2 separate regions of the Homo sapiens genome follow, and region 2 is linked to region 1. Evidence: fine-mapped expression QTL. Tissue or cell type: testis. Region 1 holds a variant in brackets; the other region holds the start of a gene. All regions are shown on one strand. Distances are from middle to middle.

Region 1 (8,109 bases):
CATTGATCTATATCTCTGTTTTGGTACCAGTACCATGCTGTTTTGGTTACTGTAGCCTTGTAGTATAGTTTGAAATCAGGTAGTGTGATGCCTCCAGCTTTGTTCTTTTGGCTTAGGATTGACTTGGCAATGCAGGCTCTTTTTTGGTTCCATATGAACTTTAAAGTAGTTTTTTCCAATTCTGTGAAGAAAGTCATTGGTAGCTTGATGGGGATGGCATTGAATCTATAAATTAACTTGGGCAGTATGACCATTTTCACGATATTGATTCTTCCTACCCATGAGCATGGAATGTTCTTCCATTTGTTTATATCCTCTTTTATTTCATTGAGCAGTGGTTTGTAGTTCTCCTTGAAGAGGTCCTTCACATCCCTTGTAAGTTGGATTCCTAAGTATTTTATTCTCTTTGAAGCAATTGTGAATGGGAGTTCACTCATGATTTGGCTCTCTGTTTGTCTGTTATTGGTGTATAAGAATGCTTACCATTCAGGACATAGGCATGGGCAAGGACTTCATGTCTAAAACACCAAAAGCAATGGCAACAAAAGCCAAAACTGACAAATGGGATCTAATTAAACTAAAGAGCTTCTGCACAGCAAAGGAAACTACCATCAGAGTGAACAGGTAACCTACAAAATGGGAGAAGGTTTTCACAACCTACTCATCTGACAAAGGGCTGATATCCAGAATCTACAATGAATTTGAACAAATTTACAAGAAAAAACAAACAACCCCATCAAAAAGTGGGCGAAGGACATGAACAGACACTTCTCAAAAGAAGACATTTATGCAGCCAAAAAACACACGAAAAAATGCTCACCATCACTGGCCATCAGAGAAATGCAAATCAAAACCACAGTGAGATACCATCTCACACCAGTTAGAATGGCAATCACTAAAAAGTCAGGAAACAACAGATGCTGGAGAGGATGTGGAGAAATAGGAACACTTTTACACTGTTGGTGGGACTGTAAACTAGTTCAACCATTGTGGAAGTCAGTGTGGCGATTCCTCAGGCATCTAGAACTAGAAATACCATTTGACCCAGCCATCCCATTACTGGGTATATACCCAAAGGACTATAAATCATGCTGCCATAAAGACACATGCACACGTATGTTTATTGTGGCACTATTCACAATAGCAAAGACTTGGAACCAATCCAAATGTCCAATAATGATAGACTGGATTAAGAAAATGTGGCACATATACACCATGGAATACTATGCAGCCATAAAAAATGATGAGTTCATGTCCTTTGTAGGGACATGGATGAAACTGGAAATCATCATTCTCAGTAAACTATCGCAAGGACAAAAAACCAAACACCGCATGTTCTCACTTATAGGTGGGAATTGAACAATGAGAACACATGGACACAGGAAGGGGAACATCACACTCTGGGGACTGTTGTGGGGTGGGGGGAGGGGGGAGGGATAGCATTAGGAGATATACCTAATGCTAAATGATGAATTAATGGGTGCAGCACACCAGCATGGCACATGTATACATATGTAACTAACCTGCACATTGTGCACATGTACCCTAAAACTTAAAGTATAATTTAAAAAAACTGTAAAAATAAAAAAAATAAAATAGATTAAAGGCAACCAGAACATGAAGATTAATTTGACAACTTGCTTCAGCTAAGACTTAACAGAAGAAATATGTAGTGATTCCATAAGAAAGCTGAAGACTTAAAGGATTAAATTGGCTTCTTAGGAATTTTTATTCATTATAACTTAATAATAAAGCACTTTTTAAGAGAGGAAGGGTGCTTTGTAAATCTTTTGAATAGCACACTTTGAAATATTTCTGATGTAGATCATACACAGTCAGGCTCAGTAACGTAGTACTCTTGCACTTTGTTGAATTCAGATTAGATTTCCTTCATGCTTTAATTGGTTTAGCCTTTATTTTTTGTCATTGATTTCACTGTGTCAGGTAGGAAAGTTCTGATGATAACAATTTAGTCTTCCATCTATCTTATTCTTTTTTTAAAAGTGTGCATTATTTTAGAAACCATCTGTGTAAATTTAGATACCTTGTTGTATGTCACTTTTGTCTAGCTTTTTTCTCTAAATGTCTTGGTAACTTCATTGTCTGGTACTGTAATAATTGGATGTCCTCCATGAGAACCCACGTGCCCTTTTATGCTAAATTGAGTAGAGCTATATTTTCCCACAGGGTGCAGTGTAGACAGAGTGAGGTTAACAGGACTGTGGAAAGATGTGGTGGTAAGATGATTGGACAGAGGCTCACAGCAAATTGAGCTGAAACTTTATTTGTAAGGAGATTCTGAGGTGATCTGAGTGCTTCTGTCTGTTGTGTGTTTGATCTGAGTTTTCTCAAGAGATTTAGTTTACCTGCTTTCTGAGATCATTTTTTAAAGTTTTCCTCCAAAACAGAGTAATGTGTAATTATGTATCATTTATATGATAGCAGAACTATCTCCTCCCTCTTTCATTAAATATTTACTTTTACATGGCTTCAGTGCAGATAGATTTTGGTGAATAAAAATGTAAACTTTGGATTCGCAAATGAAAGACTATTTTCCAGACTTCCCAAGCTACCAATAAAGAAATTTCTACATGATTTTAATAAATACACAAAAGTTACCGAAGTTGAATGATAACGTTTAAGTAAAAAGGCTTAGTATAAGTTCGTGTCCCTTCATTGGTTCAAGAACCTCTTAAGTCTGAAAATTTTTCAAGTCTTGAAAATTGTAAAACAAGGATAATTGAGGGTTTTATAAGAGGAAGTAAAAAAGAAGTTTGACATGTTCAGGTGAAAAAGTAAAACTAACACTTTTTCTTATTTTTAAGTGAGGGATCTGACTCCTTAATTTTCTAGTTTTTCTTTTAATCAAGGGCTCTATTACTGTCACCATTGAGAAATTGTAATAATATCAAGAGACATGTAGGTAAGTGGTCACTTTAGGTACAAAATATTGATTGGGTTAAGCCCAGTTGCTGGCATTGGTTGGGTGTAGAGAGTAACAAAAAAAGAAAGAAGGACGTAGATATGACTATTTAAAAGAGGCTCTTAATTTTGTAACTCCTGTTATGTGAATCTAAAGGTCTGATTGTTAAAGCAGTTGAACCCAAAGTTCTTGTTTTATGTGGCTTACTCATGGTAGTTTGGCATTGCTAACCACTCTGGGCTTGCAACTTTCTTGTTAATTTTTGCAACATTATTCTCGCTTGATTTTTTTCTTTACTTCTCTGACTGGTCTTTCTTAAACCTGTCTTTGAGTGTATACTCTTACATTTGATGTTCCTCTGGATTATCTCTTCACCCCTCTTCTTTCTCATGATGCTCTTGCACATTATTTTTAAAAATATTACCCACTCTTGATAGTGTATCTGCACTGAGACACGTACTGGAAGCTATATATTGTTTGACATCTCAATCTAAAACAACTCATCTTTCTTACTTATGACTAGAGTTCCTCCTCTTCATTTATATTCTTTTCTTGGTGAACATCAGTGTCTACCAATTTCTAAATGCAAAGGAGAAAGATACAATTTTAAGCGAAATGGTGGTGATATGCACAACTTGCAGAAGGTTACATAAAACTTGGGTTTTCAGAGATGATTTTTTCTTTTCTTTTTAGGATATGTTCA[A/G]GGAATGAGTGATTTACTTTCCCCTCTTTTATATGTGATGGAAAATGAAGTGGATGCCTTTTGGTGCTTTGCCTCTTACATGGACCAAATGGTAAGAACAGAGATTCCTTCCATTAAACTGATTTTTAAAATTTTAGTTGTATAATTTTATAGTATAAGGTTGATTTTTATATTTAGCCAACTATGATGGAACTTAAAAAAATTACCTCATGCCTTTTGTTACTTTTTCTTTTTAGTAGCCTTTCAAGGGCTTAGAAATACTGGTGGTATTTTTAATACAGGAAATAGTTTGTGCCTGTAGTATAGGAATAATCAGGATTTAATATCAGTAAATGCTTATTTTCTACTAAAGAGCCATGTGTCATTACAGAATATTGATAAAATAGATGAATTCAATTTTGTGGAATAGTTGAACTTTAATATCATCTGTTTCAGAGATAAAGCTTAGTCATGCCAAGTAATATCCTTACCTTTTGTGAAGATTTTGAATTTTGTCATTATAGTAACTGATTTTTCTCCAGATGTGTTTGAACTATTTGTAACTCTGACACTTTCTTAGGAATTCATTGTTATTTTCCCAGAAGTATGTGATTATTAGAATTGAACTGTCTATATATACATGTTAGTACAAAGAACATTTTATCTATTATCATTGTTAAATCTTTGAGACAGAGTTCTAGGATAATAGTGCAGAGAATATTGACAGGAAAATAAAAGAAAAGTCTCTTCAAGCAATCTCAGAAAAATAAAAGCAGAAGGGGTGAGACTAGATAAAGGCAGATGAAGTCCAAAGACCTGACTACATAGAGGTTGCTGTGTTTTTTCAAAATAACACTAACATACTGGATGCTGGGCCTTTATGTTGGATATTGAAATGGCTGGCTTGCTTGCAAGGGATAAACATTTTGAATCTAACCATCTGAAATATTTTCCTGTAATACAGGGTTTAACTCAGAGTTTCTGGGATACAAATGTGAAATTTGGAAGTGGTACCCTTCTCCTTTTTTCTTTACTTCTATTCTTTCCCTTTTGCTTGCCTATTTTTCTTTCTCCTTCAAATTTTCCCTGCTTGTGGCTATTTCCCCAAATCTCTTGTCCATAGATTCAACTTGTTTTTGCTTCTTTCAGTTTTTTTCTAAATGTATACTTGGTAAGATTTGATAGATTTAAAATGTTCTTTTACATTAAATTCATGAATATTCAAATTGGTTTTTTGCCATAAATTAATTTTTTTTGACTATTTGGAAGGATTATCAATGCAGTAATTTGGTAATGTCATAGTTTGTCTTCCTTCCTTTTTTGATTGATTTGTCTACCTTCTTAGTTCCATTTACTCCCAAGTGCTCTAGAAACCTGAGGCATTTGTTATAAAGGTCTGTACAGCTGATACTAATTACATAAAAACTGTTGTCTGCCTTCCTTGTGTTTTTGTTGTTTATCCTCTTTTCACCAGAGCTAGTATGTTCCTTGATAAAAGGGATTATATCTTGTTTCACTGGTAGCATACCAGAATTTTCCTAATGCCTGACATGAGGTTGTTCAACGGGTTTTTGTAGAATAAACATGTGAATCTTTCCCCAGTGATTAGTTTAAATTGCTATAGTAGATATTCTAAAAAAAAAAAAAAAAACACAACTAAGATGAACATACTGCATTTAGTATCATGCAATAAGTTTTCAATAAAACTAATCCAATATTGGCATGTAAATATATATTGACATATAATGCCACATACACACATGCATACAGACGTGTGTATATAGGTCTCATATGTAAAGACTACCTTCTGAACATGTGTAATAAACACTTTACAGTCCGTCATTTTTTGTGTATGAAGGTTCAGTTTCTTTGTTCTGTCATTTTCACAGTAAATGCTCTCTGTGTTTGCCTTTTCCATTAAGGATGTTCTGGGGATTTTTCTAGTCTTTATTCTAAAAAAGATATCTTATGATTATGTTGTCTGCTAACATCTTTTCTTTCATAATATTTGAATGAGAGGGAAATATATGGCAATCAAAATAACCTGTATGATTGTTTTTCACTGCATTGCCCTTGTTTGATGTCCCTAAATCTGTGCTGCTGTTTCTTGATTCTGTGTTTCTGTTTTATAGCTTTACTTCATGTAAGTTTGTACTACCTTTGTGGTGGCTGAACCTAACGTCTGTAAATTTACTTTTGTTGATGTTTACTTGCATCTAATGTAGGTCTAGGCATAGACTTTGTCTATTATCATGGAAATACAAAGTACAAGTGATCTGATGAACTTTGTTATACCCATCATCCATTTTGCCATATAGTTTTAATTCCTTTCTCCTCTCCATCTCCCCCTCCCCTGCCCCATACAGACACATTTATTTACAGACACATTTGAAGCCCTTTGTATATCCATTGTTGATCCCACTCTCCCTTCTCCAGGAGTAACCACTTTTTCGAATATGGTGTCTGTCATTATGGACATGTTTCTTTTTTACAGCAGAGTGGGTAGCAAATGTCTATGCCATGTTGGTATTCCCAGATCAGCTCTAGTCTTTGACTGTGTCACAGCAAAAATGATCCTGTTAATCAGAGTTGATTCTGCCCCTTCTCTATAGATCTCTCTGGTAAATGTGGAGGAACTATATCCTAAAGCCTTGAGTTAGTCTATTAATAAACTGGTTTTTAAAATTCATTAAAGAGAAACAGCTTATTGAGAATTAATAGACTTAAATTTTTTTTAAGAATGAATTGTTTCTAATATGATAGTTCTAATAAAGCACTATTGTACTGTAAAAGTGAAAAAGTAAGTGTGAAGGAGGAAATGTTTTTCTAAGGCTTTCACTAGGGTTAGGGCGGTAGGTTACCACAGAGGGATCGGGACATATGAGTTAAAGGGATCCAAATCATTTAAGAAGCCTTTCAGAGCATCAGTTTTGGTGCCTTCTGGCCCCTTGACTCAGGTGTTGGTAGGGAGTCTACTCAACTATGAAGTTTCTTTAAAGCATATGAACCCCAGCAGTTCCCAAACTTTGTGACCTCAGGGCCCCTTCACACTCTCCAATATTATTGAAGACCTGAAAGAGTTTTTGTTTATGTGGGTTATATCTGTTGATGTTTATGTGAAAAATTAATACTGAGAAACTTGTATTCATTTATTTATTAATTCATTAAATAACAACACATTCTACCTTAACATAGATCACTTTTTTTTAATGAAAAGTAACCTTTCCTAATGAAAAATTTACCGACACAAGAGATTGTTTTAAATTTTTCATTTTTAAAAATGTCTGGTTTAATAGAAGACAGCTGAATTTTCATATTTGCTTCTGTGTTCAGTCTTTTGGAGTATCACACATCATACAGCCTTTGCACTTGTGAAAGAATTTAAGTATGAAATCCAGATAATGTTTTAGTATTGTCCTGAAAATGGTTTTGGCTTTACAGATTCTCCAATGTAAAGTAATTCTTTAAAATGAAATACATACTAAAACTAAAATTAATTTTATTATGTATAATTTGAAGGAATATTTAACAATGGAAAGAATTTGATAAATATTTATTTCCCAAATGTGTGTTTCTTTCACCAAGTCTTTTATGCTGTGTAAGAAATAAATAGTCAGTCTGCAGTTGCTATGTCTGCATTCTTCTTTATCTAAGTCAAATGAATAGAGGAAAAAATAATCCTTAGTTTTGAGAGCAAGGATTCTTTCTCTTTACCCTCCCTTTTAGTGTTACGTTAGATTTTTGGTTAGTTACGCATTTTTTAAGATTACCAGTGTGGTATAAGTTCAGCATTTGTCCTTAGACATCATGTTTTAGTTATCAGTCATTATGTACTATAAAATATTTATTAAATATTACTTGTAACAATTATTTCCTTTTAAAGCATCAGAATTTTGAAGAACAAATGCAAGGCATGAAGACCCAGCTAATTCAGCTGAGTACCTTACTTCGATTGTTAGACAGTGGATTTTGCAGTTACTTAGGTAAGTTTAGTGAATCAGAACTATACCCAGCAAATTGTAGAGTAATGCATAGAAAAAAATGTAAAGAACTCTTTAAAGAAGCCAGGTGCAGTGGCTCATGCCTATAATCCCAGCACTTTGGAAGCCAAGGAGGGAGGATTACTTGCACCCAGGAGTTTGAGACTAGCCTGGCTAGCACAGTGAGACCCCATCTCTACAAGGAAAAAAAAATGCTGGCTGTGGTGATGCATGCCTGTAGTCCCAGCCACTCAAGAGGCTGAGGTGGGAGGATTACTTGAGCCGAGGAGGTTGAGGCTACAGTGAACTGGGATCACTCCACTGCACTCCGACCTGGGTGACATAGCAAGACACTGTCTCAATAAAAAAGAACTTAAAGACATATATACTCTATTGCACTTTCTTCGGTTCCATAAAAATGTGGAACCAAACTCTCTTTGTATAATTCTGCCTTAAACTTGATTCGTAAAATGTATTATTTGTTAGTTTTTAAAAAGAAGTCAGCCTTCAAGTTTGAAATGATT
Region 2 (8,088 bases), 74 kb before region 1:
GATCAATTAGTGGAAACGCTGGGGAAAACTTAATAGATGAAGTGGGACATGGGATAAGCTCAAAAGACAAATAGGCCAGCCAGAAACTGAGGTGAAAGAGAATCAAAGTGAACAGTAATTAAATGCTGTAGTTCAGAAATAGGAATAATCACTTTTAGCTGATAATGTAGCACAGCTAAATAAGACATGTATATGGAATGAAGTCTCTATTCAGCCATGAAGCAGCTTGTGACTTCTGCAAGGTATTACTCTAAGACATTCAATTTCTTCACTTGAAAAACTTGGGGAGATTATCTTCAAAGTCCTCCCTAGGCCTAAGGTTTCTTTATGGCATTTACTATTAAGATTCTTTTGCATTATGTAACTTTGCCAGTAATAAATTATAATTAGTGAGTGACTATATAGTTTATAGGAGTGAATCTAGGAGCTCTGAAATTACTGTCATGAAAACATTAATTTATAGGGAACTTAAGGACTTTATTTACATTAAATCTCATATGCTTTAAATCTCATATCTCCTACTGCTTTAAAACAATCTGTCCACTTGCTATATGTAAGTGTACTCTGATCATTCCCTCTAATAAAGTAAAAAATTAAAACCTGAAACTAACCCCTTCTGAAATCCTGACCTTGTTTTTTCCCTTTGCATATAGACAGAGGATATCATTGAAGAAGGAAAATAGGTCTATTTCCTCTATTAATGTATAACTGTGCCATTCCTAAATGGGAGAATTGATTCAAATTAATTTGTAACACATGATAGCAACACTTCCTTGAGAAACTGTTCTAGCTACATCTCTTGTTCAGCAAAGTGTACTAATTTTCAGAGAACAAAAGCAAAATAAAGTTTCACTTAAGACTATGCATCTCAAAGTTTAATGTACACACAAATCAGGGCTTTTGTTAAAATGCAGATTTTTCTGTAGTTCTGGGATGGGATCTGAGATTCTGCTTTGCTTTTCTTTTCTTTTTTGACAGAGTCTAGCTCTGTTGCCCAGGGTGGAGTGCAGTGGCATGATCTTGGCTCACGGCAACCTCCACCTCTGCCTCCCAGGTTCAAGTGATTCTCCTGGCTCAGCCTCCTGAGCAGCTGGGACTACAGGCATGCACCAACACGCCAGGCTAATTTTTGTATTTTTAGAAGAGACAGGGTTTTACCATGTTGGCCAGGCTGGTCTTGAACTGCTGGCCTCAAGTAATCCGCTTGCCTTGGCCTCCCAAAGTGCTGGGATTACACGCATGAGCCACCGTGCCCAGTTAGATTCTGCATTTCTAACAAGCTTTCAACTGATGCTGGTGCTGCTGGTCTGTACACATACACTTTGAGTAGTAAAGGCTTATACTTTTTTGATGTATGATTAGCTCACTCAAGTCAGAAGTCCAGTGGCAGTGGACACAGGGACTAGAGTTTAGGAAAGAGAGACTTGGGCTGGGAATATTTGGGAGTCATCAGTACATAGGAGATTTTGATGCCAGAATATGAGGATAACGGCCCAGGAATAGTGTTTGGAGAAAAAGGAAGAGAGGCCCAAGGCCAGCCCATGGGTAGCGCCATTATTTAAGGCACACTTGTAGGATGAAATTTAAGAAGGTCAAGAAGTAGCAGATGAACCTGAGATGCCAATGATGCTTTTCAATGAGAAGCCTGTAGTTCTCAAACTTATATTTTAAAATATAAGTAATAACTACATTTATTGAGCCTTTTATTCCTGGCACTGTGCTAAGGGCTTCAAATTTTCTCTAAAACACAGGGTGTAAGAAATGTGATGTCACATTAAAATTTTTCTCTAACCACATCCCAATGCTCTGAGCTGGTGGAAAATGTAATTTGGGTCATCAGTAGGATTTTCCACTCCACACCCAAGATTATATGAAGGTTCTAGGGGTCTTAGTCTCAGTCCAGTACATTTGGAAAAGGCCCTCTAGTCTTCACTCAATGCTGATTACTGCTAATATTCTCATTTTCCCACCTCATTCATCCCTTGTAGGTGAGCTGCTTTCTTGATTCCCTGCCAAGCTTGGGCATAAGGGTCTTGGTCATGGTTGGAATCTCAGATACCTAGCACGCAATCTCCCTAATATGCTACGCATTCATTCCCACCTAAGGTTCCACCACTTTCCTCACCTATTAGGTTCCTGGTAGTCACATAACCGGCAACTCTCCTTTTCTGTCGTTCAGCTAGTTGCCACCTACCTCAACCAAACTCAAAAGCCTCTAACCCCTCTCCACTGTGTGAAGACGGAAGTACCTCAATGGACACAAGTGTTTTTGGTGAAAGGGACTTTTTATTCTGCCCCGGAGCTAGGGAAATCCCAGATCTGTGCCAGAGTTATCAAGGGGGTAGTATATAATCATTCTCTGCATTCTTTTACAGCACTGAGAACAAGTAAAATTCTTACCTTAGTATCTTTACAAATCATTTTACCACACATGTATTGTCGTATGAAATCCCTACAACCACTCCATGCAGGAGTAATTCCCAGTTTACATCCTGAAGCTCTGATAAATTTAGAAACCTGCTTTAAGTCACAGAGCTAATAAGTAATGTGTAGGTGCTATAAACTATGTGCCTTGGGCTCTGCAGCTATGAGGGCGTGGTATTATCACAGTTCCTATCGAAATACCTTGCTGGAGGTCATGTGTGAGTGGCAGTGACCAGACAAATAGAGAAACCTCATATACAGAGGGGAAAAGTCTCCATGTATAGTGCCTGGGATATCTCCATGTTAGTGCTGCTCTTTCTTGGATCTTCACCGCAACGCCACTATCTTGATTTTACTATAAGAAACTGAGGTTTCGAGTGCACTGGTGATTTGCCTACTGCCACAAAACCAGGCTAATGGGCTGGGCGCGGTGGCTCAAGCCTGTAATCCCAGCTCTCTGGGCAAAGGCTGAAGCGGACGGATCACCTGAAGTCAGGAGTTCGAGACCAGCCTGGGCAACATTGGCGAAATCTCGTCTCTAATAAAAATTTAAAAATTAGCTGGGCGTTTGACGCGCGCCTGTAATCCCAGCTACCCGGGAGGCTGAGGCTTGAGAATCGCTTGAACCGAGTGGCGGAGGCTGCAATGAGCCGAGATCGCGCCACTGCACTCCAGCCTGAGCGACAGAGCGAGACTCCTTTTCTACAACAACAACAAAAAACCAGGACAAATCTTGCTGGCTTCCAGTATGGTATTCGTTTCATCTCACCAAACTGGCGTGGCCTGCGCTAGCTTCAGAGTCTCGACAAACTCCAATACAAGTAAGGTACACATTATTTTAGCAGTCTTCCTTGGGGAGGACGTGGGGCAAGCACAAGCGTAGCGTTAGGCCTGAGACTCCACCCCAGCCGTCTCTGAGCCCAGTTCAGCACGCACGCGTCAGGCGGCTTTTTTCCGCCCGGCTCCTTTCCTCCACTCCCTTCCCGCCACTCCCCGCCCTTTTCCCGCCCGGATGTTATTCTAGTTTTGCCGGATGTTGTTGTATGTCCGAGAGACACGTGAGGTTCTGCTACGTCATTACCAGGCACGCGCAGGAAACATGGCGGCGGCGGGTGTTGTGAGCGGGAAGGTAGGTAACGGCCTCCAGGAAGACCTCGGCTTTTCTCTGGGACGGGGATGCTTTTGCTCCCTGGCAGCTGGTTGGGGGAGGGACACGAGGGACTTTCTGTGTCCGGACAACCCGTGGCGTCTGTAGGAGAAGACTGGGTGGTACCAGCTGGTTTCCCGAGAATGCCAGTTCAGCCGCGGAGTTATAGAGCCGGCTACTGCTCCAAGGCCAGCTAGGCCTCGGCGCTCTTCTGCCCCAGAGCAGAGAGGCTTTTATTCGTATTACCTTTACTAAGGGACAGGTGGCTCTCTAGTTCCTTTTTTCCCCCGATTCACTGTTTCTTGACTCTAGTTCTTTATGTCTACTCTTCTGACTCCAGCGTCTTTTCTCTCTTTGAAGCGTTAACCCGACTTGCCTCTGTCTTCTTTGCTACAGTTTGGTGAAGATGTTTATGCTTCCTTCGGGAGGAGCTGAATAGATGCTAGGCAGCTAGCTGTGCGCTTAGAAGAAACGAGTGTATTGGGTCTGTTTTTACCAAGCTGCTGAGTTGGTTGGTGGTTGTGAGCAGCAGGACGTGTTTCCTGAGAGAAATGGAGATTTACACCATCCTGTGCTTGTCTAGGAAGGCGTCCAAATATTTATTTCCTAGGCATTTCAGTAGGAGTATTGGTCATGCTGGTTTACGGAGGTGGTCAGTGACACGCCTAATTTCGTTGGAAACTAGAATTACGTGCGGAGATTTCGTCGAATAGTGCCTATTCGCGTTCCGAGGGCACATCTTATGCATAGTTAGGGCTATCAGCTTTATGATATGCCACCGATAGTATTTCCCAGTGCAGGAGTATTTCATAAACAGCTGGAATCAACTGAAGTGACTCATCGAACACTAATGGTTGTTTACTCATTGCAGATAGCGTCCTCTGTTCCTTGAGTTTCACTCATGTCTCCCTGTTGCTTTCCCTACCCCATTTTGAATTATTTGACAGCGTTTGTGGTTTGGTGTTTGGAGTATTAGACTAGGCGGCTGAATGACAAATATGGGCTTGGTTTTGCTGTTAATCTGAAGTATGACCTTGGAAAATTGGGCAATTGTGACTTTTGTCTTTTCGCGTTCTTTATCTGTAGAATGGAGGAGATGCCAATCATTATTTCTTGTATTGGAGTTGTTAGGGTTATATAAATTTTTTTTTAAAAAAACATAAAATTACACACTTGTACCTACTGGCTCTTTTAAAGGATAGGTGGGCATCCTTTTTTGGATTATTCGTGCTCCTTGGTTGTCTTGTCAGTTTTTTTCTTTTTATATTCAGGGTGGATGCTGATATACTGCTTGACTTACTGCGTATTTGAAGATTATCCTGTTTGATTTTCCATCTAAACTGATCCAGGCTGGGACTTTTCAAGAGGGGATCCCTTCCGTTTAAACATCTCCCTCTTTCAGGTTTGGATTGATTTTGAAAGAATCCTTGAGGCAATGAAGCAGAGTTGTGAAATGAAAAACATTTTTCACTCTTTGCAGCCACTACCTTTCATAGTCTGACTTCTTAAAGTGAGACTTATATTTAGTAATTCTGCTTCATAACCTCATTTATTCTCATTCACTGCAAATTCACATCTATTGCCATCACTCCACTGAAACTAGTTTTCCATGCCAAAAGCTGCTCCTCTCCCAAGTAATACTATCATGACCAACAAAACCCACTTGTTCTTCTCTCAGTAAGTTCAGATCTGGTTTAATGGCATCATCTTTCACCTGGTTGCATGTTAAACATACTTGGAGGCATTCATTCCTATAACACTCTCTAATCAATAACCATGTCCTACCAGTTTTACCTTAAGAGGTTTCTTAAATTTACTGCATCTTCTTTACTATCAGCGCATAGTTCAGGCTTTTAGTCTGCTTCTATTCTTGATTTCTTGGCTGATTTTACTCCTTTTCTACAGTCTCTGCCCTTAATCTTCTCTACACCACCACTGGAGTTATTTTTCTAATGCGCAAACCTGATAATCTCTTGATTTAAAAAGCAAATGAAAACTCTTCACTTTTTTATCGTCAGCATAATAATAATAATAATGAAAGCTGGTTAATGTAACATAAAAAGACATGATACCTTTATGCTTCCCTACTTCCTAATCTTTTTTCTTTAGGAAAGGGGATGGGGAGAAAATGTGTGTGTGTGTTTATTTATTCATCTCCCCTCTCCCTTCAAGTTTTAGCTAAGAGTTCTAGTTTAGAAATCCAGGGGAGTGAATGTTAACCAAGGCTCACAAAAATCACTCGTGATACTTTTTAATAAAAGTACAGATGGTGGGCTACCAGCTCTGTTGAATTAGAGTCTCTCAGTGTCTCCACCTAGGATGTAACTTTTCTTAAAACTCTACTTGCTTTGAACTTGGAGTTTCGGAAAGTGATGGAGGAAGTTAATCTCTGTCTTGTAGGGAAGCAGCAAAAGGTAATGGTTAAGAGCTTGGTCTCTGAAACCAAACTAGTTTCAGAAATTATCTCCACACATTTACAAGCGACTTCAGTAAAATTACTTAACCTCTCTGTGCTTCAGTATCCTCATCTGTGATATGATAACAGTACCTACTTTATTCTTGGTATGAGGATTAATGAGTAAATATATTAGAAACTGTAGACTGAACTAATCATCATGAGGTCAGATCCTGAAATGTTTCATCTGCCCCTAACATAGATTCTGGCACATAATAGGTATTCAGTGAAGAGGAAGAAGCAAGAAGGTATGAGAAAATGAGGAACCAGGTGCCGTGGCTCAGGCCTGTAATCCCAGCACTTTGGGAGGCTGAGGTGGGAGGATCACTTGAGCTCAGGAGTTCAAGACCAGCTTGGGCAACATAACTAGACCCTGTCTCTATGAAAAATAAAAAAATTAGCTAGTTGTGGTGACATGTGCCTGTTGTCCCAGCTACTTGGGAGGCTGAGGTGGGAAGATTGCCTGAGCCTGGGACTTGGAGGCTGCAGTGAGCTATGATGGTGCTACTGCACTCCAGCTTGGGTGACAGACCAAGACCCTGTCTCAAAAAAAAAAAAAAAAAAAGAAAAGAAAAAGAAAATGAGGAGGGATTAGAGTGGGAGAAATGGGTCCATTAATAGCTCTTTTGTTTCAGAGTTGTAAAATCCTATTGTAGTACACTTCATTCACTCTAGGTTTTCCTGTTAGTGTATTAGAATTTCTTTCTATTGAAAATTACTGGCCGGGCACGGTGGCTCATGCTTGTAATCATCACTTTGGGAGGCTGAGGTGGGTGGATTACTTGAGGTCGGGAGTTTGAGACCAGCCTGGCCAGCATGGTGAAACTCTGTCTTTACTAAAAATACAAAAGCCGGGCATGGTGGTACACGCCTGTAGTCCCAGGTACTCAGGAGGCTAAGGCAGGAGAATCGCTTGAAACCAGTGCAGTGAGCTGAGATTGTGCCACTTGTTCAGACTGGGCGAAGGGCATACTGTGTTTCAAAAAATGAAAAAGAAAATTACTTGAAACAATAGGGAAATCAGCTGTTTTTTTTTCTTAATTAGAATTTGTGATGTCATTTTTAGTAACAATTTATTTTGTAGCTTAAAATTGGCCCTAACCAATTCTTTTTAAATATGCTCATAGTCCTATAAAATTTTTGTGCTTTAGAAAGATGAATATTCTTAGTATCTAGATTTTCCTGGAGACTTGTTTTCCTAGACTGGATCTTTTAACATGGTAGTTAACTAGGGTATAATAGGAGTATGTCTTATTTTTAAATTTTTCTGGCATTCTTTAGTTCAACAAACGTTTTAGTACCTCCTATGTGCTGAGTTCTTTGGATACAAGGGTGGTTAAACACAGACTTGTATTATTATTATTATTATTGTTAATTTATTTTTGGGACAGTCTTGCTCTGTCACCCAGGCTGGAGTGCAGTGGTGTGATCATGGTTCATTGCAGCGCTGACTGTGTATCTCCTCCAACTCTTAAATTATTCACGTCTCCTATCTGACTTCGCTTGGCACACCAATATCCTTGAGAAGCAATAATAGTTCTGCCAGTTGCTCTTCCTTGAGAGTTGTACCATTCTCTATATCTCAAAACATTCTTCACTTCAGACTATCTGTGATGTATTGCCCTTACAACCACCTGTATTGTGCATTTTTTTTAGTTCCATAGTCATTACTCATTAACACATCCCAAATAAAACTCAGCTTTCTTCTTTCTGTTCTCCCTCTCAGTAAATAACCTCATCTACACAGTTTTGTCCTTGACTGTTCTCCCCTTCACCTCTCACATCTAATCAGTCATGAAGTCTTGTCATTTTGATCTTCTAAATATCTTTCTAAGCCATCTGCCTTTCCTCATCCCCACTACCATTGCCTTAGTTCAAGCAACCATGAGTCTCTCCCTCTCTGGATTACTGCAGCTGTTCGTTCTTGGCCCTGCAGCCACTTTATTGGCTTAGAAAAGGCAAATTTCTAGTTGCGTTTGTCTGTCTTCAGGATAAATTTCAAACTCCTAAATTCTTTAGCATGGCTTATGCAGCCCTTTATGATCTGATCTGGTCTCTGTTT

The links. PIP is the estimated chance that this variant, and not a neighbour inherited with it, causes the effect.
Region 2: TBC1D15 starts here. The variant in region 1 is fine-mapped to the expression of TBC1D15 in testis (GTEx, PIP 0.97).

What each region holds. Positions count from the first base shown.
Region 1 is chr12:71,910,210-71,918,318 of GRCh38, forward strand. TBC1D15 (TBC1 domain family member 15) reads left to right here. Exons shown (of 17, transcript NM_001146213.3): 12 at 3,617-3,717; 13 at 7,489-7,588. Among named protein-coding and RNA genes, the nearest start is that of TPH2, 25 kb to the right of the region's middle. The variant A/G (reference allele first, on the strand shown) is at 3,627.
Region 2 is chr12:71,836,259-71,844,346 of GRCh38, forward strand. TBC1D15 (TBC1 domain family member 15) reads left to right here and starts at 3,501. Exons shown (of 17, transcript NM_001146213.3): 1 at 3,501-3,553. The coding sequence starts at 3,524.